7 linked regions of the Homo sapiens genome follow. The protein of the gene in region 2 interacts with the protein of the main gene of each other region in a pairwise test. Each region holds a gene or a part of one and is shown on either strand. Other genes may lie near its edges. The genes, in order: MTNR1B, MFF, PECR, TM6SF1, GKN1, MPZL1 and SLC35B1.

Evidence for each region.
Region 1: the proteins of MFF (region 2) and MTNR1B interact in a two-hybrid assay, tested with the Homo sapiens proteins (one large-scale study listed by BioGRID and IntAct).
Region 3: the proteins of MFF (region 2) and PECR come close enough for resonance energy transfer, tested with the Homo sapiens proteins (one large-scale study listed by BioGRID).
Region 4: the proteins of MFF (region 2) and TM6SF1 interact in a two-hybrid assay, tested with the Homo sapiens proteins (one large-scale study listed by BioGRID).
Region 5: the proteins of MFF (region 2) and GKN1 interact in binary tests that used the Homo sapiens proteins (3 or more experiments, as listed by UniProt).
Region 6: the proteins of MFF (region 2) and MPZL1 interact in binary tests that used the Homo sapiens proteins (3 or more experiments, as listed by UniProt).
Region 7: the proteins of MFF (region 2) and SLC35B1 interact in binary tests that used the Homo sapiens proteins (3 or more experiments, as listed by UniProt).

What each region holds. Positions count from the first base shown.
Region 1 is NC_000011.10:92,976,151-92,979,650, forward strand, and holds part of MTNR1B (melatonin receptor type 1B), read left to right. Parts: intron 1-1,008; exon of another isoform or gene 1,009-1,540; coding exon of another isoform or gene 1,541-1,637; intron 1,638-3,500.
Region 2 is NC_000002.12:227,342,251-227,345,750, forward strand, and holds part of MFF (mitochondrial fission factor), read left to right. Parts: intron 1-494; coding exon of another isoform or gene 495-569; intron 570-3,500. UniProt on the Homo sapiens protein: Plays a role in mitochondrial and peroxisomal fission. Promotes the recruitment and association of the fission mediator dynamin-related protein 1 (DNM1L) to the mitochondrial surface.
Region 3 is NC_000002.12:216,043,810-216,047,309, reverse strand, and holds part of PECR (peroxisomal trans-2-enoyl-CoA reductase), read left to right. Parts: intron 1-3,294; coding exon 3,295-3,406; intron 3,407-3,500. UniProt on the Homo sapiens protein: Participates in chain elongation of fatty acids. Catalyzes the reduction of trans-2-enoyl-CoAs of varying chain lengths from 6:1 to 16:1, having maximum activity with 10:1 CoA. Has no 2,4-dienoyl-CoA reductase activity.
Region 4 is NC_000015.10:83,106,493-83,110,444, reverse strand, and holds the start of TM6SF1 (transmembrane 6 superfamily member 1), read right to left. Parts: upstream 2,801-3,952; 5' UTR 2,765-2,800; coding exon 2,673-2,764; exon of another isoform or gene 2,559-2,672; intron 1-2,558. UniProt on the Homo sapiens protein: May function as sterol isomerase.
Region 5 is NC_000002.12:68,977,636-68,981,476, reverse strand, and holds the end of GKN1 (gastrokine-1 precursor), read right to left. Parts: intron 3,841-3,841; coding exon 3,703-3,840; intron 2,607-3,702; coding exon 2,496-2,606; intron 1,565-2,495; coding exon 1,417-1,564; intron 749-1,416; coding exon 654-748; 3' UTR 501-653; downstream 1-500. UniProt on the Homo sapiens protein: Has mitogenic activity and may be involved in maintaining the integrity of the gastric mucosal epithelium.
Region 6 is NC_000001.11:167,787,982-167,790,200, forward strand, and holds part of MPZL1 (myelin protein zero-like protein 1 isoform a precursor), read left to right. Parts: 3' UTR 1-2,219. UniProt on the Homo sapiens protein: Cell surface receptor, which is involved in signal transduction processes. Recruits PTPN11/SHP-2 to the cell membrane and is a putative substrate of PTPN11/SHP-2.
Region 7 is NC_000017.11:49,700,443-49,702,703, forward strand, and holds the end of SLC35B1 (solute carrier family 35 member B1), read right to left. Parts: intron 1,069-2,261; coding exon 1,016-1,068; 3' UTR 501-1,015; downstream 1-500.

The sequences.
Region 1 (3,500 bases), on a different chromosome or scaffold from region 2:
TATCTCCAGAAAGCTGGATTCTGCATTCGGATATGATATACCACAAAATTCAGAGAATACTGAAAGCTCCTACTGGCTCTTTCAATTTAAAATACTTACTGCTGGAGGAGTAGAGATAGAGAATTGGGAAGTAAAGCCCCAGTTCTTAGGGAGTTTGCCATCTAGAAGGAATGTCCTACTTTCTTCATCTTCATGTCCTTACTACTTCTCACATCTTATCTCACAGGGATCCCAGTCCAACCTTATGAGCCTCTTTCTTGATCTGTCAGTACAGCTAATAATATAAAACAGTAATAACAAATAATAGCTAATATTACTAGTGCTTGTTATATGCCAGATTCAAGTCTCTTTCCTTTAAGAGAGAAAGAAAAGGCAAAAAAAGCCCTCCACTGTCCCCTATCAAAGGGATATTCCTTCCTAAGCGCCACTCTCTATCTCCTTCTTTTGAAGGCAACACTGATAGAGCAATCTCCAGGGCAAAACTGGATCCCCAAGCTCTCAACAGAATTTGTTCTTGTTAATGTCACTACTGCCTTCCTAACTACCAAGTCCAATGAGCACTTTTCTGTCCTTTCTCACTTTTGTAGATGACCAAGAAACTCTCTACACCCTTTCTCTTAATTCCCTTGATATTTCTTTTCTTTGGTTTTCTCCTCTTCTTGTTCTTTCTCAATCCTTCTGTGTTATGGCTATGAGCAATTCACACAAACTGGGTGTCTGTTTCTTTATCTATAAAACAGAAATCATGCTGTCAACCTTAAGGAATTCTTGTGAAAAACAATGGAGTCCATTTATGTAAAACTATACTATCAACTTCACCATGTTATATCAATGGTTGTTTTGTTGCTATTAAGTGTAAAGTAATAAAATGTTACCTATCAGAATTTCAAAATGATCTCTTTTGATGGTTATTGAAGAATATTTTGTAAAGCATCTTAGTTATGTTTTTAAATGGATGCTTATGTTCTTAAATATATTTTCTTCTTTTAAGTGGTTGAAATACCCCCATATATATCTGTGTACACTATTGATTAGCCAGTTTTTGTTTTCTAATTAAATCAAAGTTAGATTTCAACTCAGCTCTTGTATGATTCATCCACACATCCTAAGATTTTCATAAATATGTGACTTTGGAAGAAAAAAATATCTGCTCTCAAGAGATTTGGGAATCTAATTACAAGCTTACAATAAATGCATTGTTTTAGTGTTTGTTTGAAAATCAAGTTGTGAATAAATTATATGGTCAATTATTTCAAATGCCCATCCCCAGAACATAATAAGAATATCTCACATTAATTTGGTGATTATTGTTATTTCTCATGACCTTTCCCATACAACATCTTATTTGAGGTAAACAGCCATTCTGGGAGTTAGGAGTTCTGTTGCAAAAGTCTTGGTAATTTTGTGTAGCTCCTTGGTGAATTGTCGTGCCTGACCAACCCCATATCCTGCCATTGTCCCCAGTCCCAAGTTGACTCACAAATTCCCCACTGTTCCCACCACCTTGTTCTGGCCTTTCTTCCAGCTCTCACCTAATTGAATGGCTACTGTTTTCTTTTGTTTCCCTAACAGTTCCATGGGCATCTCAATGGCAGGGGCCATGTCTTTCATCCATCACTGCGTCTTACTTGAATGTGGTAGGCACTCAATAAATATATTACACATTTAAACAGATGGAAGAGTGGAAGAAGACCTCAAGGCACAGAAAGTTTAACACTGTTAGAAAACATAGATCATTTGTTGACTTCCCCAACATATCCCTCTTGGCACCTTGTTTTTATTTGTTTAATGGTCTTCCCTAAGAGACCATAAACTTTATAAGGGGAGGTAGCCTGTCCATCTGGCATAGTCAAAGGCAGAACCTAGTATATACTCAGCAATATTTGTCACATAAATGACTTGATGATTCTCTCTTTCTATCTTGTCTTTTAGCTCAATGACCAAGGAGAATTTATGTCTAACCAAATTTTTCTTCTGAGCATGGAGGGTGAGCACAGAGGAGGGGGGCAAGGGTTACAGGGAGCTTTACCTTCCAGAATTCTCCTATCTGACGAATATTAGATAGCTCAGCACTGGCTGGCTCTTTCCTAGATTACCAGATCTCCATTAAGAAATACATTTTCCAGAAAGAAAGAGAGAGGAAGAGAAGAGGGAGGAGACTGTGATGGTTGTGTGTGTGAAAGGATGCGCTCTGCGTATGAATCCTGAAGGGGATTCCATGTTAGTAAACAAAGCCCTCTTGTCAAAGCCTCTCTCCACTAATACACCCTATCTGCTGGAGGCAGATGGAAACGAGTCACGCCAGGACCCATGACATAAATATTCATTATGCACACGGTGACTGCAGTGCTGTGTGCATACTGAGTGATTTCTCACCTGTCTGGGGAAGAAATGGATGGAGAACTGGATCTCCCCTTGACTATCATCCACATAGGACCTGGCTTCTTACAGATGGAAGACAAAACACAAATTTTATTCATCTAATTTGGAATTGTGCCAAGAAAGCCTGGAGACAGTGGGATGTCTGGGCAGATGAATCTATAGCAGGAAGTGGTTGATTTCAGCCTTTTAGGAACAGCCAGAGTAATAGGGGATAGTAATTGAATCACTTTCCACATGGAGTTGAATGTGTTCTTCTTACTATTTACAAGCTGTTTGCCAGCCTCTGGGGCATTATTAGGGGATAAGCCACATTAACACAGCAGAACTTGACTCTGCCTTCACAGGGAAACAGCTGGCAGAGCTGGCACCGGCTCCCAGCAGCTCTTGACTTTCTCTGCTCAGCTTGCAAGTGCCAAGAGCTTGTGTGTTGCTGGGCCAGGTGCCCAGCGGGTCCTATGGAGACTCATCTTCCTGTGCTGGAGAGAAGTGATTCTCTTCACAGAACCAACCCTATGAGTGTGCAGGGGGAAGTGATGGCAGAGCTCTGAAAGAAAAGAAAGGAGCTCATGTAGGAATAGTCACCAAGAAAGGAACTCGGGAACTCGCCCAAATTCATTCAACCATAAAGTGGCAGGACTCAGATTATCCCAGATTTCTCTGACTTCAGCACAACCCTCCAGATTTCAAAAGGACACATAAAATTCTCAGGAGACAAGGGTTCCTGATTCAGCTGAAGACAAGCAATGTGAGAGAGGGAATCCCTCATGTTCTTGGAACCAAGTGAGGTCTGTGTAGATGAGTCAGAGATGGAGATCCAGCAGTGGAGACAGCCAGCGGGCTGAGAATTAAATTAAAAGGCACAAAACCCCTCCACATCCCAAGCAGGTCCTTGTTGCACATTTTTTGCCTTGCTGTACCAACCAGAAAGGAAATGAGGTCATTTTTAACCCATGAAGTAAATAAATCTGTGAATAGTAGAGTAGGTAGGAATCCAGCAGTTCAGTTGAGTCATGATTCTCCTTTGCCATCCAACTTGCTGGACAATCTTGAGACAGGGAAACTCACTACCTCACAAGCGCTCTAATTGTCCAGACAATCTCCTTTCTATTCAGTTACAT
Region 2 (3,500 bases):
TATGTATGTATTTTGTTAATAATGTAACTTTGCCCTTTCTTTTCCTACTGTTGTTAATTTTATAATTTACAATTTATCTTTAAGAATCTACATCTTACTAACTTTAGAATTTTGTATAATGAACATATTATTCAGTGTTGTTAACGTAGTGAGGAAAAAACAATTGATATAATACCTCTATTAAAATAATTATTAAACTCTTACTATCTTTACCTACTTTAGTGTTTTCTTTGTAACATGAAATTGTTGTGCGTCATAGTGCATGAAACTTTGCCTGTCTCCACTTTATTTTATTCCATGGCTTTAAGAATAAAAGTGCGAACGGGTATGAGAGCAGGAGCACTAGCCTTTGTTTTCTTAATTACTTCGAAGAGGCAATAAGATTGTGGTCAGCTATTAGCGCAAAAGTGAATTCTAAACAGTAAAATCAGATCTAGCTTTTTCTTTGTGTTATAAAAGCTGAATATGTAAAAGAAGCATAATTATTATTTAAGGTGGCACAGATCAGATTCTGCCCCAAGAAATAAAATTTCAAGGTTCCAGGCACCGATTTCTGCACCGGAGTACACGTAAGATTTTATCTGCTCTGCTTTTGACAAGTAGTTGTTTTGATTTTGAAGGATTATGTTAATACTAATCTATTCACCAGGTAATTGACGTATGCTATCCTAATTATCTTCCTGTTTGGCTTTTTAGTACCTCTGTTTCAGGATTTCTCAAACTGTCATTATATGCTTTATTAAGGAAAAAAAAAAACTAGACCATCTAAGGAAGTTGTATATGATTTTGCATGTGTTGGTGAAAGGAACCTGAAATATAATATGCACATAAGGACCAAGCATCCTTTTTTGTTTATTTTGCTTTGGTTGGTATAATAGTTCTCAACAGATTCAACGTCACCTGGTGCAGTGATCCCAATTTTTTTTTTTTTAATTTCAGCGCACTGTCTTTTCTTCTTCTATCTTGTTTCTGAAGGAGAATGGAGCATAAGTGTGGTTTGTCATTTATTTTATAATCCCATAGATGAAAACGATGCTTGGAAGCACTTTTTTGCTATTATTAAACCCACTCTTTCCATGTGACAAAATAAGGTATGAGAATGACTCACTCATGGAGCACAACGTTTTGGTATATAATACAGGTATTCAATAGCTAATACACTTCTTAAGCAACAGAAGAAACTGCACCGAAAGCCAACAGTTTTCCTCTTATTCTGGTTCTATTATTATGCTTCCAGGAACTATTCAGTTGCCATAGATAGTGGCAATATATTAAAATTTCCTCTGTATTTACAATTCCAAGAGAAATTAATATATTTGTGTTTTAGTGAAAATTTTTTCTCTTTATTGTTTTACCCTATTTTTTGGAAGAGTGATACCTCACCGAAGAGGTTAAATTCACAGGTTGGGAAACATTATTCCTATGAAAACTCAAAGAGGTACTTGATTTTGAACTTACTTTTAATAATGATATAGTTATGCCAAGTAAATTTTTATTTAAATTTTAATTCTGACAATTGGCTGGTGTTTTTTTGGTTGTTTTGTTTTTTTCTTTTGAGACGGAGTCTCACTGTGACTTCCAGGCTGGAGTGCAATGGCGTGATCTCAGTTCACTGCAACCTCCACCTCCCGGGTTCAAGCGATTCTCCTGCCCCAGTCTCCCAAGTAGTTGAGACTGCAGGCACATGCCACCATGCCCGGCTAACTTTTGTATTTTTAGTAGAGACAGGGTTTCATCATATTGGCCAGGCTGGTCTTGAACTCCTGACCTCAAGTGCTCTGCCCACCTTGGCCTCCCAAAGTGCTGGGATTATAGGCATGAGCCACTGTGCCCAGCCCTGGTGTTGTTTATGTAACTCTTATGTGATAAGATTTCATGTAAGCATGAGGTAGAGCTATTACTAATGAAGCATGGTAAACATCAGTGCTTTCTTCAAAATTTTCTAATCTTTTCTTTTAAAAAGGTAATGTTGAGACTTTGCTATTTTATAATATCACTGGAATCAGTTTATCAAATTGCATTTTTATTAAATTACTAATATATATATAATGCCATTTACTTAATCTTCTCAGTGCCTTTGCAGTATGTTTACTTTTTTATTTTCCACAATAGTTCACTTGTCAAAACTACAGAAACAGGAAGTCATTAAACCTTGGTTGGGTCCATGAGTGGACGGAGATGAAAGCGCTGTTTCCCTCCACAGTTGATAGCTGTGGAGTACATTTTAGCTCCTGTCAAACTGATTGCTAAAATGGAGCTTATTCTTTTTTGTTTTTACATTTATTTGTAAAAAATACCAACAAGACTGCTTAAAGTTTTAAAAAGGAAAGACAATTGCTAAATTATTTATTGCCTCTAATTACTAATGTAGTTTTGGCAGTCTTAATGGTGATTTATTTCATCTGTGGATGGAATTAAATGTTACCAAACAAGGACATTTAATCTATACAACACTGGCAAAAGTAGTCATCAATTAAAAAAAAAAAATACTCCCGATTTCGTTTTTTGTTTATGGAGGATTGCCATACACATGAATGAAAAGCTAATTTTTTTACTAATCTTTGAAATGTTAATTTCTTTTGAGAAACAACTAGAACCTCAAGTTATGTTTTTGATGCTGGTTTTTGAGGAAATAAATATCTTTACTAGTATTGATAAAAACTTAATTTCATCTTTTATCTTTCTACATAAGTATTTTTCATGTTAAATTATAACTGAGGATCATGTAAGGTTTTTTCTCATTGTATTCCAATTTCATGTGATCGTAAAATCTTAGAATTGAGAGAGATCTTATAGATTGTTTTAGAATCCAACCTTCTGCATTCCATCTTAGGAACTCTTTGCAGTTAGTCTGAAGTAAGTTTATGTTTGACTATTTTATAAGATGACCTCCTCATTTCCTATATATGGACAGAAAATACTTGTACTTTTACAGTTTAAATAAACAATTCATTATTGTTTGTTTCTGGCAAAAGGATTTCTCTTAGAGGAAGTAACCCTTCTTTTATTTTAATTTTTAATGGGCCAACATCCATTAAGTTTTTTTCATGGATTTGAGTTTAGTTCATTCATACTGTTGCCCCAAGATTATAATTCTAAATATTGATTATTGTAGCCTTTAATATGTTAGTATATAGCTGGTTTATTTATCAGTACAGAATGATACACAAAGTGTTCAATTTAAACCCCCAAATGCAAAGGCAAAGTACGGATTTGTCCTTTAAAACTTGCTTGAGTGAATTTAGGCAGTTAACGCTGGCTGCTCTATCAAGAAGAGTGTAAGATGGATTGTTTGTTTATGTTGATGTAGAACTGACCATTTTTTAATTCTCACAAGCAGTAAGAGCTTCAGGTTTTCCCAGTGCTGCCTAAAGAGAATTCTGAGTGTAAGACTAACATATAGTTTTGTTTCACAAATAGGATGTTTTTTTTATTTGTTTGTTTGTTTGTTTATTTGTTTTTACCCTTCTGGAATGCCTGGTATGGGTTTTGCCAATTAC
Region 3 (3,500 bases), about 11 Mb from region 2:
CTTTGCATGCATTAAAAATTTGTATTTGTTGACTTTTTTTTTTTTTTTCCTGAGACGAAGTTACACTCTTCTTGCCCAGGCTGGAGTGCGGTGGCACGATCTCGGCTCACCACAACCTCTACCTCCTGGGTTTAAGCGATTCTCCTGCCTCAGCCTTCAGAGTAGCTGGGATTACAGGCATGCGCCACCACACCTGGCTAGTTTTGTAGAGACAGGGTTTCTTCATGCTGGTCAGGCTGGTCTTGAACTCCTGACCTCAGGTGATCCACCTGCCTCAACCTCCCAAAGTGCTGGGATTATAGGCGTGAACTACCACGCCTGGCCTATTTATTGACTTTTTTACGAAAACAGAATTTACTCTGTGTTATTTTCTGAAACTTGTTATGGGTATACTATAATATCATCAAATCCCATTATGATTTGGATTTTATTTATATTTTTGTTCTTGCAGTAATTCTGCAATGAACATTATGAATATAATCATGTACTCTTGGGTGAGGGGATATGTTTCTAGAAACAGAGTTCCTGAACCAAAATAGACTTGCATTGTATTTTGGAAGATACTGTTAAATCAAACATTTGATGAGCCATGTTAACCAAGGTCTTTGGATTTGTATTCTGAAAACTAAGAGTAATATTTAATGAATTTTAATCAAGGCAATTATATTACATTTTTATTTTTGATAGAATACTTTGGGAGGCTAGGCACAGTGGCTCACACCTGTAATCCCAACACTTTGGAAGCCTAAGGCAGGTGGATCACTTGAGGTAGGAGTTCAAGATCAGCCTGGCCAACATGGCGAAACCCCGTCTATACTAAAAAATACAAAAATTAGCCAAGCATGGTGGCATATGCCTGTAGTCCCAGTTACCTGGGAGGCTGAAGCAGGACAATTGCTTGAACCCGGGACACGGAGGTTGCAGTGAGCAGAGATTGCGCCACTGCACTCCAGCCTGGGTGACAGTGAGACGCCTTCTCAAAAAAAAAAAAAAAAAAAATATATATATATATATATGTATGTATATATATATACTTTATGTGGTTTACATTATCTATATTTGCTGTATTAGAAATTAAAACCAAAATTTAAGAAATATTATTAATTCATTTTAAAATAGTAATAAAGGAGTACATGTTAACATAAATAACATTTACTTTAAAATAGCTACATTTAAAAAAAGAAACAAAAACTTTTTTTTTTTTTTTTGGTTCAAGCGATTCTCCTGCCTCAGCCTCCTGAGTAGCTGGGATTAACAGTCATGCACCAGCATGCCCAGCTAATTTTTGTATTTTTAGTAGAGACAGTGTTTCACTAAGCTGGCCATGCTGGTTCGAATTCCTGGCCTCAGGTGATCCACCTGCCTCGGCCTCCCAAAATGCTGGGATTACAGGCGTGAGCCACCGCGTCTGGCCGGTTTTTTGTGTTTTTGAGGGAGTGTGGTTTACAGATTGTTAGAGGTTGTGACTACTTGGGTGGGATGGTTGTTGTCTGGATGGCATTTCAGAAAGGAGCTCATTGGAGCAAGTCTCTTTTTGATGCGCTGACTTTAACAAACATGTTCATTGGCTGAGTTGTCACTACTGGATCAAACAGGGTTAAAACCAGCTCTGTTGCTTGTTACCATGTCTCAGTACAATCTGCCTTTTCACAGTAATGTGGGACCTTTTAAATAGTGAATTCTATACCAGCCCTGTCCAGTAGAAATATACTAATAGTCACATTTGTAATTTTAAACTTACCAGGAGCCACATAAAGTAAAAAGAGGTGAAATTAATTTTAATAATATATTTGACTTAGCCTAATACATCCAAAACATCGTCATTTCAACATGTAATCAACATGGAAAATTGAGATGATTTTCTTCATCCCTCGGAGCATCCAGGATTAATGAGATATTTTACATTATTTTTCCCATACTCAGTCTTCAAAATCCAGTGTGTGTTCTATACTTACAGCACGTCTCAATTTGGACCAGTCATACTGAAAGTGTTTGAGTAGGCGACTATGTCTAATGGCCTCGTTTTAGATAGTGCAGCACTGTACTAGCTGCTGGGAATACAAGGATGGAGAGAAGGCTTGGCTGCTCTCCAAGCTCTTAGAGTCTCAAGGAGGTATAGCCTTGTGAATATAGGACCAGGACTGGGATGAGGCAAGCAAGGCATGGACACAAAATTTAAGGACCCACTCCCTCTGAGGGAAGATTTTGCACTTGTGCAAACCTGAGAGTGAATACCTCCTTAAATCTTGCACCCTCGACACCTTATTTGCCTCACCCTAGTCCTGGCCCTGCCTGGGGGCCTTTTAAACTGCAGATTCTGGGACCCCAACCCCAGAGCTTACAATTGCAATGATCCTGGAAGGATCTAGGAATCTGAAGTCTCAGTAAGCATCCCTAGTGATTCTAATGCAGGTGTTTTGGATCATCACCCTTTGAGAAACTCTGCTTCTTCCCACAGCCTCAAGTGAGAGCTCCTTTACAAGTCAGTGAAATAACTTCCTTCTGTTTGGGTTGGGAGTAGATGTTGCTGAACTCATCAGTTCCCTATTTGAATTTTTAAGGAGTACAGTGGGAGTCTGAAGTGCCTTTGGTTTATTTTTATTTTTATTTTTTTGAAATGGAGTCTCACTCTGCCACCCAAGCTGGAATGTAGTGGTGCAGTCTTGGCTCACTGCAACCTCTTAGGCCCACGCAATGCTCCCACCTCAGCCTCCTAAGGAGCTGGGACCACAGGTGCCCGCCACTGTGCCTGGCTAAGTTTTTGAAGTTCCTCTTGTAGAGAGCTCCTTTGAATGTGTGTTGCTGGGCTTTTGGCCTGACAGGACCGCAGACTGAACAAACCAGAATGCTAGTTTATTGCTAAACAGACACATTGACTATTTCAGGGACCAAAACATAAAAGGCACGAGGTAGTGATGGAAAATGGGGTTGTGGAGGACAATGAAAGGCATGGAAGGAAGTGAATTGTTTGAAATGGGAAAGAGCAGAGCTGAAGCACTGAGTTCACTTATGGCTTCTTGACGTCATGTAGCTTGCTTGACATCGTCTAAGGCTCCCTCATACCTTGCCACCTTTACCCTAGTCACCTACCTGATTTCGGTGATGCTCAGGTAGAAAGGGAAATTGTAGGAAAAGGAAGTTGTCTATGTACTGTGAGGTTGTGGTGCACATGCACACACTGTTGGATTCATGTTACAATCATGGGCTTTGAGATGCCTTTACTGGGGAATGTGAGGCGGTTAGAAATGGGGAGTATTTGCTTTTACCTATGCACATGTGTGTTTCTGTTTCCAGGTCTCCTCTGTGGTCTGCTTCCTACTGTCTCCTGCAGCTTCCTTCATCACTGGACAGTCGGTGGATGTGGATGGGGGCCGGAGTCTCTATACTCACTCGTATGAGGTACCAGGTGAGCAGCTGAGGAATGAGCAGTCACCAGCTTTATGCTGTGTCATGTTCAGGGGTTTAAAATTTATTATAAGTAGTTACTTAAGAGATGAGGG
Region 4 (3,952 bases), on a different chromosome or scaffold from region 2:
GATTGTCTCTGACTCTTGGCACTGTCCCCAGAGACCCTCCTACAACAGCCAAGTGCAGGACCTGCTCACCACAGGAAGAAACAGGTCCTGCAGGGACTCAGGGACAGGTAAGGGCTGCGACTAACCCCAGGATGAGAAAGTTGCTAGTCTTGGGGGGTGGGAAGGGCTGCTGATGCCCTTCTATGAACAGACACCTACTGAGAGGGGACATGCAAGGATGAGTGTGAGCAGTGTGTCTCTCTCAGTGAGAGAGGGAGACAGAACACGCTCAATCCTTTCCTGACCTCTCAATCTAATTTTCTTTTTCTGGTTTTCAGAGTTGCATAAAAGGTTTGGTGGGAAGGAAACTCGATTCAACAAAGTCAAACATACCTGAGTGCCTACGATGCACACGGCGCTGGCCTGGGCAGGACAGTACAGAGGGGTGAGCTATAGCCGGGGCAGGTAAGTTCTTACCACAGGAAAGTAACTCTCGGGAGAAAGGTGCAAACAAGGGACTGAGGGAGCTCAAAGGAGAGAGAGGGAGGGTCTGCAGAAGGTAGAAGTGGCCATAAAGTCCAGGTGCGGCTTCAACAGTCTGCGATAGGAGGAAGGCAGCATCCCTGTCAGGGAGCAGCAGGAGTCCGGGCTAGAGGCTGGAGAGGAGGAGGAATGGTCAAGGAGCAAAGGCAGGCTGGTGCGGCAGGAGCACTAGTGCGTGGGCTGGGACTGGGGGGCCGAGGCCGAGAAACACGCAGCGGGGCTGGGCAGCGAGACTTGCACCGGAGCCTTTGCCACAGTCCAGGTCAGAAAGGGCCAGTGCCAGGGAGAACTGAAAGGAGGGAACAGACACTAGAGCCCCAGGACTTATGGGGAAGCAGACAGTAGGAGGAAGGGAGTGGAGAAAGAAGAGAGGAATCAAAGGCCACGGGGGTTTTAACCTGCAAGAGGACAGGAAGAATGGCTGACACTAATTATTCAAAATGCTGTAGTGCTTGCCAGTGCGCTCCATCATGCACAGCAATACATAGTTCAGTCTGTATTCAGTAAATGCCATCACCATCTTCCCAGTGGCTGAGGCCAAAACCTAGGGCTCATCCTCAAATCCTCTGCTGCCATGCAACCCTCTTCAGTAAGCCCCATCTGTTCACCTTCCAAAATACCTACTACGCCCATCCAATTCCTTCCCCTGCACTGCTCCATTTTCCTGCCCGACAGGCTCCATTCCCAGATCTTCCCATAGCTCAAGTGTTACCTCCTCCTAGAAGCCTTCCCTGGCCACCAGCCCCCTCCCCAGTCACCCTATTTTATTATCTTCATAGCATGTCACTATCGATGTATTAATGTTTGTTGATGTCTATCTCATTACCTGCCTCCACAGCCTCTTCTGGCTTGTTCATAGCTATGTCACCAACACTTGGAACAGTGCCAAACACACAGTAGGCACTCAGTATATCTTCACTGAACTACCCGTAATGCCATTTTTTGGAGCACAGGGTCCCCCATGCACTATATTGACAGGCATGTAATATTCGGTGGCCCAGAGCAGCTGCCTCCAGGGGATGCCTCCAGAGACTGGGCCAGACCAAGGGTAGACACTGCTGGTGCCTGGTGAGCACTCAGTGTGGGTGCTGCCTGTATCAGGCGGCCAGGCAGCTGGAGAGGAGGAAGTTACCACCCTATGTACAGACACTCCACGGCCTGACCAGCTGAAGGGGGTTTGCAGCCTACAGACTGATGCAATTTCCTTAGCACCAACAGCTGAGAGACATAGCAGGTTACTTCCTCCTCCCTCCAGACAGCAACCAACATCAGCAGGAACAGAGGCTGGCGCCTGTCCCAACACCCGGCGACCCTCAGGCCTTCAGCTGCCGGCTGCAGGTTAGTCCGTGATCCCTGCAGTGGAGTGGGAGGCAGGGCTTCGAACCCAAGCCCTGTCCCCCTCCATCAGCCCCACCCATTTCCTTCACATTGAAGTGTTCTGCCTCTGCTGCCTGTCCCCATCCTACCCCAGCGCAGGCACTGGGAAGCACTTCTCCATTCACAACGCCCCTTCACAAAGAGGTCTCGGTGGAACCTTACAATAGGACGCACACAAAGTCCACTTGACCGGAAAACCGAGGCCAGACCACACCGTCAGTGCCAAACACCGTCAGGCCAGACACCGTCAGTGCCAAAGCCAGGCCTAGAACCCACGTCTCTGCCTGTTGGTTCCGGGCTATTTCTGCTAGTCATTCACAACAGTTTCTAAAATTAATAAGAAATGATAAGTATGCGAAAGTCCATACATGGAAACGTTCCCGTGAGATGCAAAAAGAACAAGGCACAAACGAGCTGACACGGCCAGGTTCGTAGTGTCCGTGTTTGTTCCGCTCCCCACCGGCCCCTGGGCCCCTCCAGGGCAGGGGCATGGCCGTATTGACGCCTGTGACCCCGGGCACCTGGCGCGGTGCTGGCACCAACATCCCGAAATGCGCCAGCCTGGGCACCTCAGGGCCCGGCTCCAAGACCCGGCCCGTGCGACCCCTGGGGCGCCCCCCTAGTCTGGCCAGGCGCGGGGAGCCCCTGCGGCCACGAACCTCTGTCCCGCGGCGGACGGTCCCAGCCCCCTCGGAAAAGTTGCGAGGCTCCCGTCGCGGCGAGCCAACTCCCGCCGCCCCTCGGCGCGACCCCCGCCGCGCCGGCTCACTCACTCATGCTGGGCCGCCAGGTGGTTGAAGACATAGGTGACCGGGATGGCCGAGAGGGACAGCACGAAGACCCCGGTGGCCGCAGAGGCACTCATCGCAGCCGCCGCGCCGCTCGCCCTTCACCGCATCCCGCTGGGCGCCCCGCCCCAGCTTCCGGCGGCGCCCGCGCCCCCTTGGCGCTTGCCCTTCGAGGCGCCTCAGCCGCGCCCCCCGCGTGGCGCCCTCAGCGGCGTCCCCTCAGCGGTGTCTCCTCCGCGCGCCCTCCCAGCCCGCAGCCGTCCCCCGCGCCTGGCCCCGTCGCCCCAAGTGCGCAGGGCCGCGGTGCAGTCCCGGGAGGCGTCCTTGCAGTGCTCCTGCCAGGGGCGCCACGGCTCAGCGGCAAGCGCCCGGCGGCGCCGAGGGGCGGCGACACCCCCGCGCAGGGACAGGTGCCCCTGGCGGCGCGCGCTCCGAGGGAGGGCCCGGGGCACGGCCGGGAACCGGTCATCGAAGAGCTGGAGAGGCGCGGGGCTGAGCTGCGGTCCGGGAAAGGTGGAACCAGATCCGAGGGTGTCAGAGGAGGAAGGGCCCGCGGGATCGTCTATGGGGGAGCCCACGGCCCAGAAGTGGGAAAGGACAAAATGCCCCTGAAACCTCGGAACCTCTCCGCTCCAGTAGCCATCGGCGGGCTGCTGCACGGAGCCGGCATCCGGTTTTTAAACCTGGCTCTCCAGTCACCAGCTGTTGACTTTGGTCAAATTACTTAACCTCTCTGTCTTTTCCCTTATCTGGGAAATGGGGATAACACACTTCATAGTGTGACTGTGGGGTTAACTGAGTTCATACCTACGAAGCGCGTTATCCTGTGCTGCTCACTACACCACCTCCTGCGATTCTTTTTTTTTTTTTTTCTTTAATTGAAATGGACATAAATGCTGAGACTCTAAGAGACTAGAGCGCCATTCATTGCTATTCCAGGAAGCATTCCTGGAGGCCAGGTGCCCACCAGCCAGCCTGCATTGGGCCCTGCAGGGTACAAAGACTGGAAGATAAGCCTCTTCCTCTGAATGATAGATGCCTACGGGTATGGAAAATATTGTGTGTCAAGTGTTGTGGCTATCTGAAGGGCAGTGAGTTCCAGGAGAACAGCTCAAGCAACTGAGGGAGGTACCGGCATGTACTTACTGTCTTTACAACTTCCAGGGAATTTAAGAGACCATTTATGTGTTTTTGCTGTTGCCATTTGAGGGGTTTATTTTATTTATTTATTTATTTATTTATTTATTATTTTTATTTTTTTTTTT
Region 5 (3,841 bases), about 160 Mb from region 2:
CAAAAAAATCCATCCGCAATATGCGAAAAAGAGGGAAGTAAAATTTAGAGAAGAAGAGAGAAAAGGTAACGCGTGGCTTCAGGGAGAGAAGCAGACTTGGGTCTTGGTGTCAGCAGAGTTCCTGGATGTAGTTTTTTTGATAACCAGCTGCTTTTCTTGCCCTCAGATTTTTTGAGATATTCTTATATCCTTGCAATAAACCACCCTTTCTTGCTTATGTGACTCTGAGTGAATTTCTGTCCTTGCTGATCTGAAACGTTACTGTGCACAACAACTATAGAGCAGCCTTCAGAGCAGTTGGAGAGTATTGGAACCATTCCCAGGGTTGTGGTTAGTGGTGTCTGAAGCACCTGAAGGGGTTCTTTACAGGAGACAGGTCTTGAATATAGGCTAGCAGTTGAGTCTAATGCACTTCAACAACTTGCCACCACCACATTGCATTTTTGATCCTGTGCATTCCAAGTCATAAGAAATTGTAAGAAATGTGAGTATACACTGAATTCAATGCTAAATGATTTTATTGAAACTTAAAGAAATCAAACATAACTAGTAGAGAAAAATTTCAGAATGACATGGTAAAAACCACTGGAGCCCATATTTTTTCTGCACAGCATATTCAGATGACTAAATCCATAGTGGCTTTAAAAAATTGTTTAGTTCTCCACCGTGTCTCCACAGAAGGAAATGTCCACAATCCATAGTACACTGGTCGTGTAGCACGTTCCTGAGTAAAAAAACAGGCTTGCCTCTAATAAAGAGAAAAGAAGAAGCCTATATTAATGTCTATTTAAGGACTCTTTTCTTGGAGGGGATTGGGGGAGTAGGGGTTTCCAAACTAGCTATGTGCTAATGTCAAGGTTTATCTACTTGTTGTGATGAAATCAATCAATTCAGAGATCTGGAAAATTGCCATTAAGTTAGGTCCCTAGGTAGACACTTTGTTTGTGTGCAGCTGTTCTTTGAATGTCCAGAAATTAAGTGATTGTCTGAGCTATAGAAAGTTAATAGATTCTATTAGCATTCTTCTTTCATTTAGCCATTCATGCATTCTTTTGAATATGACTTGAGTCTACTCTTGATTCACACTTAAAAGGCAGTGTTCCATAATATTTAAGAGCACAGAATCCACAGCCAAAATGCTTGGAATTGACCCAGGCAAGGATTTTGTGACCTCTCTGTACCTCAGTTTCCTCATCCATAAAGTAGGATTAAAATAGAACCTATAAGATTGCTGTGAAGAACCGAGTTAACACACTTAAAGCACATAGAACAGTACCTGGCACAGAGCAAGCACTGCACAAATGTTGGCCTTGATGACCATCCCTGCATCACTGGTGCCCACTATGGACACGCGCGAGGATAGTCTGACAATCCCACCAGCACTAACTTGGGGTGCACAGTAGGGATGCTACTCACCTTGCATCTCCTCAGCCATGTATGTTGGAATCCCACGACACATGTTTGCAATGTTTTTTCCGAACTTGCTCAGGTCATCGACTTTGTTTGGGTTGACTGAGTACATCAGGCCCTTGGGAGGTGGTCCTCCTGGTCCCTTACCCTGAAGCTGAGTGTGGAAAAGAGAGGTAGAAAGGAAGAATGGGAGAGAATGAATGCCAAGCCCAGTGGTTTGTTGACTTGAGGGGTATACGAGGCCAACAGTGAGTGTTGCTCAGCTAAATTTTTCCATAATCAAGATGAAGAAGAGCCATTTCTAGCTTATTCTGTATATCTTAGCATTTCTAAGTGTCCTAAGGGATTTAGCTGGTTTGAAACCTCAGCTTCTCATAAACACAGAAGTCTGAGGCTTAATTTATTCTGCAACTTGGACCTCATTTGGTCATCATAGATTCCTTGGATTAGACTATGTAATAATCATCTTCTGAGAATGCAGTTTATTTATTTTCTCTACCTTGTCAATGAAAGGTACTCATTTATCAGTTATAGGAATATGAACTCAGGCAAATATTTTAAAACATTATGGATCTCTTCTTTCCACTCACCTGGATTAGTATGGCCAGACAAAATATACAATACCCAGTTACATTTGAATTTCAGATAAACAATGGATCTTTTTTTAGTATATCCCAAATATTGCATAGGATATATTATACTAAAAAGACCTGCTGCTTACCTAAAATTCAAACCTAACTGGATATCTTCTATTTTCATTTGCTAAATCTAATAACCCTAACTAACTCTTGCAGAAAAATGTCCTTGGCAAAGTACTGAGGCTCCTATTGGTGTGACCAGAGCTTTGCTCCTCTAACAGTCAAGGTTTCAAGTGCTTTGCTCAGCGGTTGTAGAGGTAGGTGTGAGCCACAGCATTTGATGTGGCAGAAGTTGCCTTCCCTCAGGCAATCACCAATAACTTCCCCCTTTGTGCTGCACACTACAACATACTGTAGTCAAGAGGGAATGACTGTGATCTTCTCGTTATTTACTGAAGGATGTAAAACCTCTCCCCTCACCAAAAATAAAAAGCCTTTTATTTTTACCTTCTTTTCCTTGACCAGTGCATCAAGGGATTGAATGGAGGGCATGACTTCCTTGTTCATTTTGTGCACAATGCATGTCTTCTTTTGAAAGAGTCTGGTTGCAGCAAAGCCCTGTTAAAGTAGATGGCAAATAGTGAGGCATGTGTTCTCCGAGGAGCTTTTCTTATCAGAGGTCAGTTCCACCTGCAGAGAGAAATGGGAACTCCAAGATCGTGATGAGCTGGGATAAGAGCACTGGATGGGGCACTGCTTGGCAATCATATCTATTGCTGACATTTGTGAGGACAGACTGCAATTCTGTGAGGGCAGAGACTGAGCATCTAACTGGTTTGCTTTATTTCCAGGTTCCAGCATGATAAAAACCCCTCTATATAAGTCTGTTTTACTGAAATAGACTTTAAAAGCTATCATGTTTTAGTCTCCTTTGATCCTCACATTTCAAGGAGACAGATAAGACAAAAATTATTTTTCCAATTGACCAGATAAAATTGAAACAATAAAGAGTTTGCTATTTAAAAGTATAACGTTTGTTAAATATATAGCTGATAATTCCAGAGTTGGGTCTCCTAACTAGTGCTAAGTGTTCCTTTCTTTGCTCCTCTCTTTCTTTGCTTCTCTTTTCCTTTCCTTCTCTCTTTCTTTCCTTCTCTCTTTCTCTCTTTTTTCTTTTTCTTTCTTTCTCTCTCTTTCTTTCTTTCTTTCTTTCTTTCCTTCCTTCCTTCTTTCTTTCTTTCCTTCCTTCTTTCTTTCTTCTTTCCTCTCTTACCAATTAATATTGTCATTTACATTTCCCGAGTTTTAGGTGAAATGTCAATTTCAATCTCTTTAGAAGGTCGTAAAACCTCCTTTGAAAACAAAGTGAGATAGTCTAAGCTTTGGAAGCAGTAATGTTGTATAAGTCTTTCAGCATTATTGAGGGTATCTGCAGGCAAGGCAAAAGGATGTTCATATTTGTTGTATATACCCACAATCCCTTGAACATAGTGTTTGTTGGTTTGAATTTTAACTGATCATGCAACACTTATTAACAGTAGTTATCTCTAGGGAACAAAATCGGATGAGCAAAATGGTCACCTTTACTTATAACTGTATGCTATGTGTAATTAGAATTTATTTTTAATTTCTTTATGGTTAACATGCACATTTTTTGTTAAAAAGAAATCGTATTTTTAAACAATAAAGTGAAAATTGCACGTTGACTACCTACATTTCCATAATCCCAGATGGAATTCCAGGAGTCCCATCCGTTGTTATTGTCAACATTGGCCACATTGTGTTCATTGTTGACACTCACTGACTGCTGCCCACTTCCAGCATTGTTGTTGTCATCATTGACGTTGATATTC
Region 6 (2,219 bases), on a different chromosome or scaffold from region 2:
AATGTAGCCCATTACCACATGTAGCCTTGGAGACCCAGGCAAGGACAAGTACACGTGTACTCACAGAGGGAGAGAAAGATGTGTACAAAGGATATGTATAAATATTCTATTTAGTCATCCTGATATGAGGAGCCAGTGTTGCATGATGAAAAGATGGTATGATTCTACATATGTACCCATTGTCTTGCTGTTTTTGTACTTTCTTTTCAGGTCATTTACAATTGGGAGATTTCAGAAACATTCCTTTCACCATCATTTAGAAATGGTTTGCCTTAATGGAGACAATAGCAGATCCTGTAGTATTTCCAGTAGACATGGCCTTTTAATCTAAGGGCTTAAGACTGATTAGTCTTAGCATTTACTGTAGTTGGAGGATGGAGATGCTATGATGGAAGCATACCCAGGGTGGCCTTTAGCACAGTATCAGTACCATTTATTTGTCTGCCGCTTTTAAAAAATACCCATTGGCTATGCCACTTGAAAACAATTTGAGAAGTTTTTTTGAAGTTTTTCTCACTAAAATATGGGGCAATTGTTAGCCTTACATGTTGTGTAGACTTACTTTAAGTTTGCACCCTTGAAATGTGTCATATCAATTTCTGGATTCATAATAGCAAGATTAGCAAAGGATAAATGCCGAAGGTCACTTCATTCTGGACACAGTTGGATCAATACTGATTAAGTAGAAAATCCAAGCTTTGCTTGAGAACTTTTGTAACGTGGAGAGTAAAAAGTATCGGTTTTATTCTTTGCTGATGTCCTTTCTGCTTGAAATAACAGTCACCATACAGCTAAAGGAGAGGAGTTTCTTTCCTTCTAAGTAGGCAGAAATGGTATCATTATGTTGCCGCTCTCCAATCTCCCAGAGCTCGCTCTCTAGAGAATCACCTTCTTTCGCTTTTTTTTTTTTTTTTGAGGTAGAGTCTCACTATGTTGCCCAGACTAGCCTTGAACTCTTGGGCTCAAGTGATTCTCCCTCCTCAGCCTCCCGAGTAGCTGGAACGAACTATAGTTGCACCACTGCAGCTGGCAAGAATCACCTTCTTTATAAAGCGTCAGTCATGCTTCCAGCAAGAGGCAGCATCAGTCATGGCTTTATAACAGCTTCATGGTGCCTCAAAGACTGTTGAGGTTAATGAGAGCCTAGATTAGACAGTTTGGCTGTCCTTCCCTAAAACTTGTTTTCTCCTATTCACTACTCCCCACCGCACTTAAAATCTATGAGTTTTTACTTTTTACTGGGAATGGAAAGTGTGGTGAAGATCATTCAACACTTATGTTGTCATTTCTCCCATTTTCTGAATTTTTTTTTAAATTTCCCCCCTTTTAAAATTGTTCGAAAGCCCACAGTTATGGAAAGAATTACTGTCTAGATGGTCTGCAGAACGTGTTTGGGGTGAGTGGGAGTGAGGGGCAATGTTACTTTTTCTCCCTGTAGTTTGGAGTCCATTATGAGCTGCTGCTTTTTCTTCTCATCTTGTCATCTTCTGGGGATGTTTGAAGGCTGAGTTCCAACAGAATTCACAAAGGGAATAAAACAGGATTGAGATTTTGAGGTGTGCACAAGGTGGTAAGATAAAGGGCATATGAGCTTCAAAACTAATGCTGTTGCATACATGAAGCCTTTTGTTTTTTGAGGAGCTATTTTTGTTATTCTTGTAACGCTCCACCTTACATGCCACATCTGTGTGAGTCAACAGGGATCAGGTTTGGTCACCACACATGTCTGAAGCTGGGCAGCGTCTGCTCTGTGTTCTGTGTGGAATGGAGAAAAAAACGCCTGCCCTGCTGCCTTCCATGTTCATAGGCCCAGCCCAAGAGAGTGACACACAGTGCTGGCCCTGAGACATTTCCACAAAGTGGTCAACTCTGCCTTGCATCCTAAAACTTTTTGGGCATCTATTTTGAAAACTATAGGAGCCTTTGGAAGGCCTCTTATGTTTGGAGGGGAAGGGTGTTGAGATTGTCACCATCCTTCAAGCTGAGACTCCTGGTGAGCCTTTGCCACCATGAAAACCACATAGCTGACCAGGGCTGTGCTTGAGGTACAGAGGACACACATTGTAGACAGGCCTGTGTCATGTTTCCTTACAGTCGTTTTTTACAGAGAAAAGGGGCATTGTTTTTTCACTGCTTTCTCAACAGTTCCTGTGAATAAATGAAACATTTCGGAGCTCCCTGAGAGCAAGAGCCTTCACTTCTTCTTGCGGTGCCGGGAC
Region 7 (2,261 bases), on a different chromosome or scaffold from region 2:
CAGCATCCCTTTCAACAGGCAGAAGCTGGCATGGTGACACCTTGGCACAGCAAAGGATGGCAGAGGACTGCAATGCTTCAGCAGCTGGAGGAGGCAGGGGAATAGGAGGGATTAACCCAGCCTCCCTGGAGGGGACCAGGTAGACTGAGAACAGACAGACAGATGGAGGGGGAATATCAGGAAAAGTACATCACAGACCTTCCAAAGCTGATCATGATGTATGCACTGGGTCTCCACTCTGGTCTTGATAGAGCTGTGGCTGAAGGGGAGGCAGTGGGGAAATGGCAAAACAGTAGATTCTGAAACTCTGGGTTCGTTTTACCCCAGCCTCAATGAATATTTCTTTTCTGTTTTTGATTTTTAGTGGAGACAAGGTCTAACTATGTTGTCTAGGCTGGTCTCAAACTCCTGAACTCAAGTGATCCTGCTGCCTTAGCCTCCCAGAGTGCTGGGATTACAGGTGTGAGCCACTGCACCAGGCCTAAGAAAAAGACAGAACACAACTTTGTTTTTTTAATGAAATATTTGCCCACAGGAGCTTTAGGAGAGGAAGTGACTTTTACATTCTCTGGCTCTAATGGACAGCCACCCGTCCTCTAATGGGACCAGCTCTAACGGGACAAGCCTCACCCATCGGAACAGAAGCCATTAGCACAATTCTGCGATCTCACAGAGTTCCTCCCTATAATCCTCAGGTTCTTGGAGGAATCGCCCACTCAACCATGCTAACCACACCCGTGAGAGGAGCAGCCTGGGTAATGAACATCCAGCTCTGCCTCTTCCCTCCCTCTTTTATTTACCATAGACTGCTCCAGGGCATGAAGAACAAAAACCACCACTCTGTCTTGTTAAAATCCAAGTGCATTTTTTAGAATATGTGATTTTGCTTGATTTTATTTTATTAAAAAAGACTGGAACTCAGTCCCATATTCCTATTAAGTCCATTTTCCCAAGAGATGTCACTGTTTGAGATAATAACTTAAATATTCTTGATGTGGAGGTAGTCTCTCTCTTCCTAGTGGGATGTCTTCTTAGCTCCTTTCCCAAACTTGGCATCAAGACCAAGACCTATGAAAAGGAAGAAAATGGGCTTAGCCTTATGGGGGGAAATGAAACTTACCAATGATTGTGGTGGGGTGGGGTAGTCGGCCTTGTATCTCCAAAATGGGGGCTTTAAATAAAATACATGTCAGAACACTGGTTTTATGTAACTTCCTCAGAGACAAGAGAATGGCACCAGGATACTAGTTATTACAGATATCTGTATCTATATAAATATATCTATATAGAGATACAGATAGATATAGATACATATATAATACAGCAAGACTAAAAGAAATTTAAGAGTCAAAACTTCTAGGCTATGGCTGAATGTGGTGACTCACACCTGCAATCCCAGCATTTTGGGAGACTGAGGCAGGAGGATCATTTGAGCCCAGGAGTTTAAGGCCAGCCTAGGCAACACAGCAAGACCCCATCGCTACAAAAAAAAAAAAAAAAATTGGTCAGGTATTGTGGTACATGCCTATAATCGCAACTACTCGGGAGGCTGTGGTGGGTGGATCACTTGAGTCCAGGAGATCAAGGTTGCAGTGGACTATGATCATGCCACTACACTCCAGCCTGAGCAACAGAGGGAGACCCTAGGAAGGCTGGATTAGAAATAAAGCTTCCTTTTCTCCTTTTATTTTCTTTGGATACAGATTTTCACTCTGTCACCCAGGTGGGAGTGCAGTGGTGTGATCACAGCTCACCTCAGCCTCCACCTCCTGGGCTCAAACGATCCTCCCACCTCAGCCCCGAGTAGCTGGGACCACAGGCGTCTGCCACCATGCTCAGCTAATTTTTGTATTTTTTTGCAGAGACAAGGGTCTCATCATGTTGCCCAGGCTGGTCTCGAACTCCTAAACTCAAGCGATACTCCTGCCTCAGCCTCCCAAAGTGTTAGAATTACAGGCGTGAGCCACCACACTCAGCCTCTTTTCTCTTTTAAAAAAGTTTTCTCTGGGCTGAGCGCGGTGGCTCATGCCTGTAATCCCAGCACTCTGGGAGGCTGAGGCGGGGGGAATCACCTGAGGTTGGGAGTTCGAGACCAGCCTGACCAACACGGAGAAACCCCATCTCTACTAAAAATACAAAATCATCCGGGCATGGTGGTGCATGCCTGTAATCCTAGCTACTCCGGATGCTGAGGCAGGAGAATTGCTTGAACCCAGGAGGAGGAGGAGGCTCACCCGATTGGTGAGCTGAGATCGTACCAC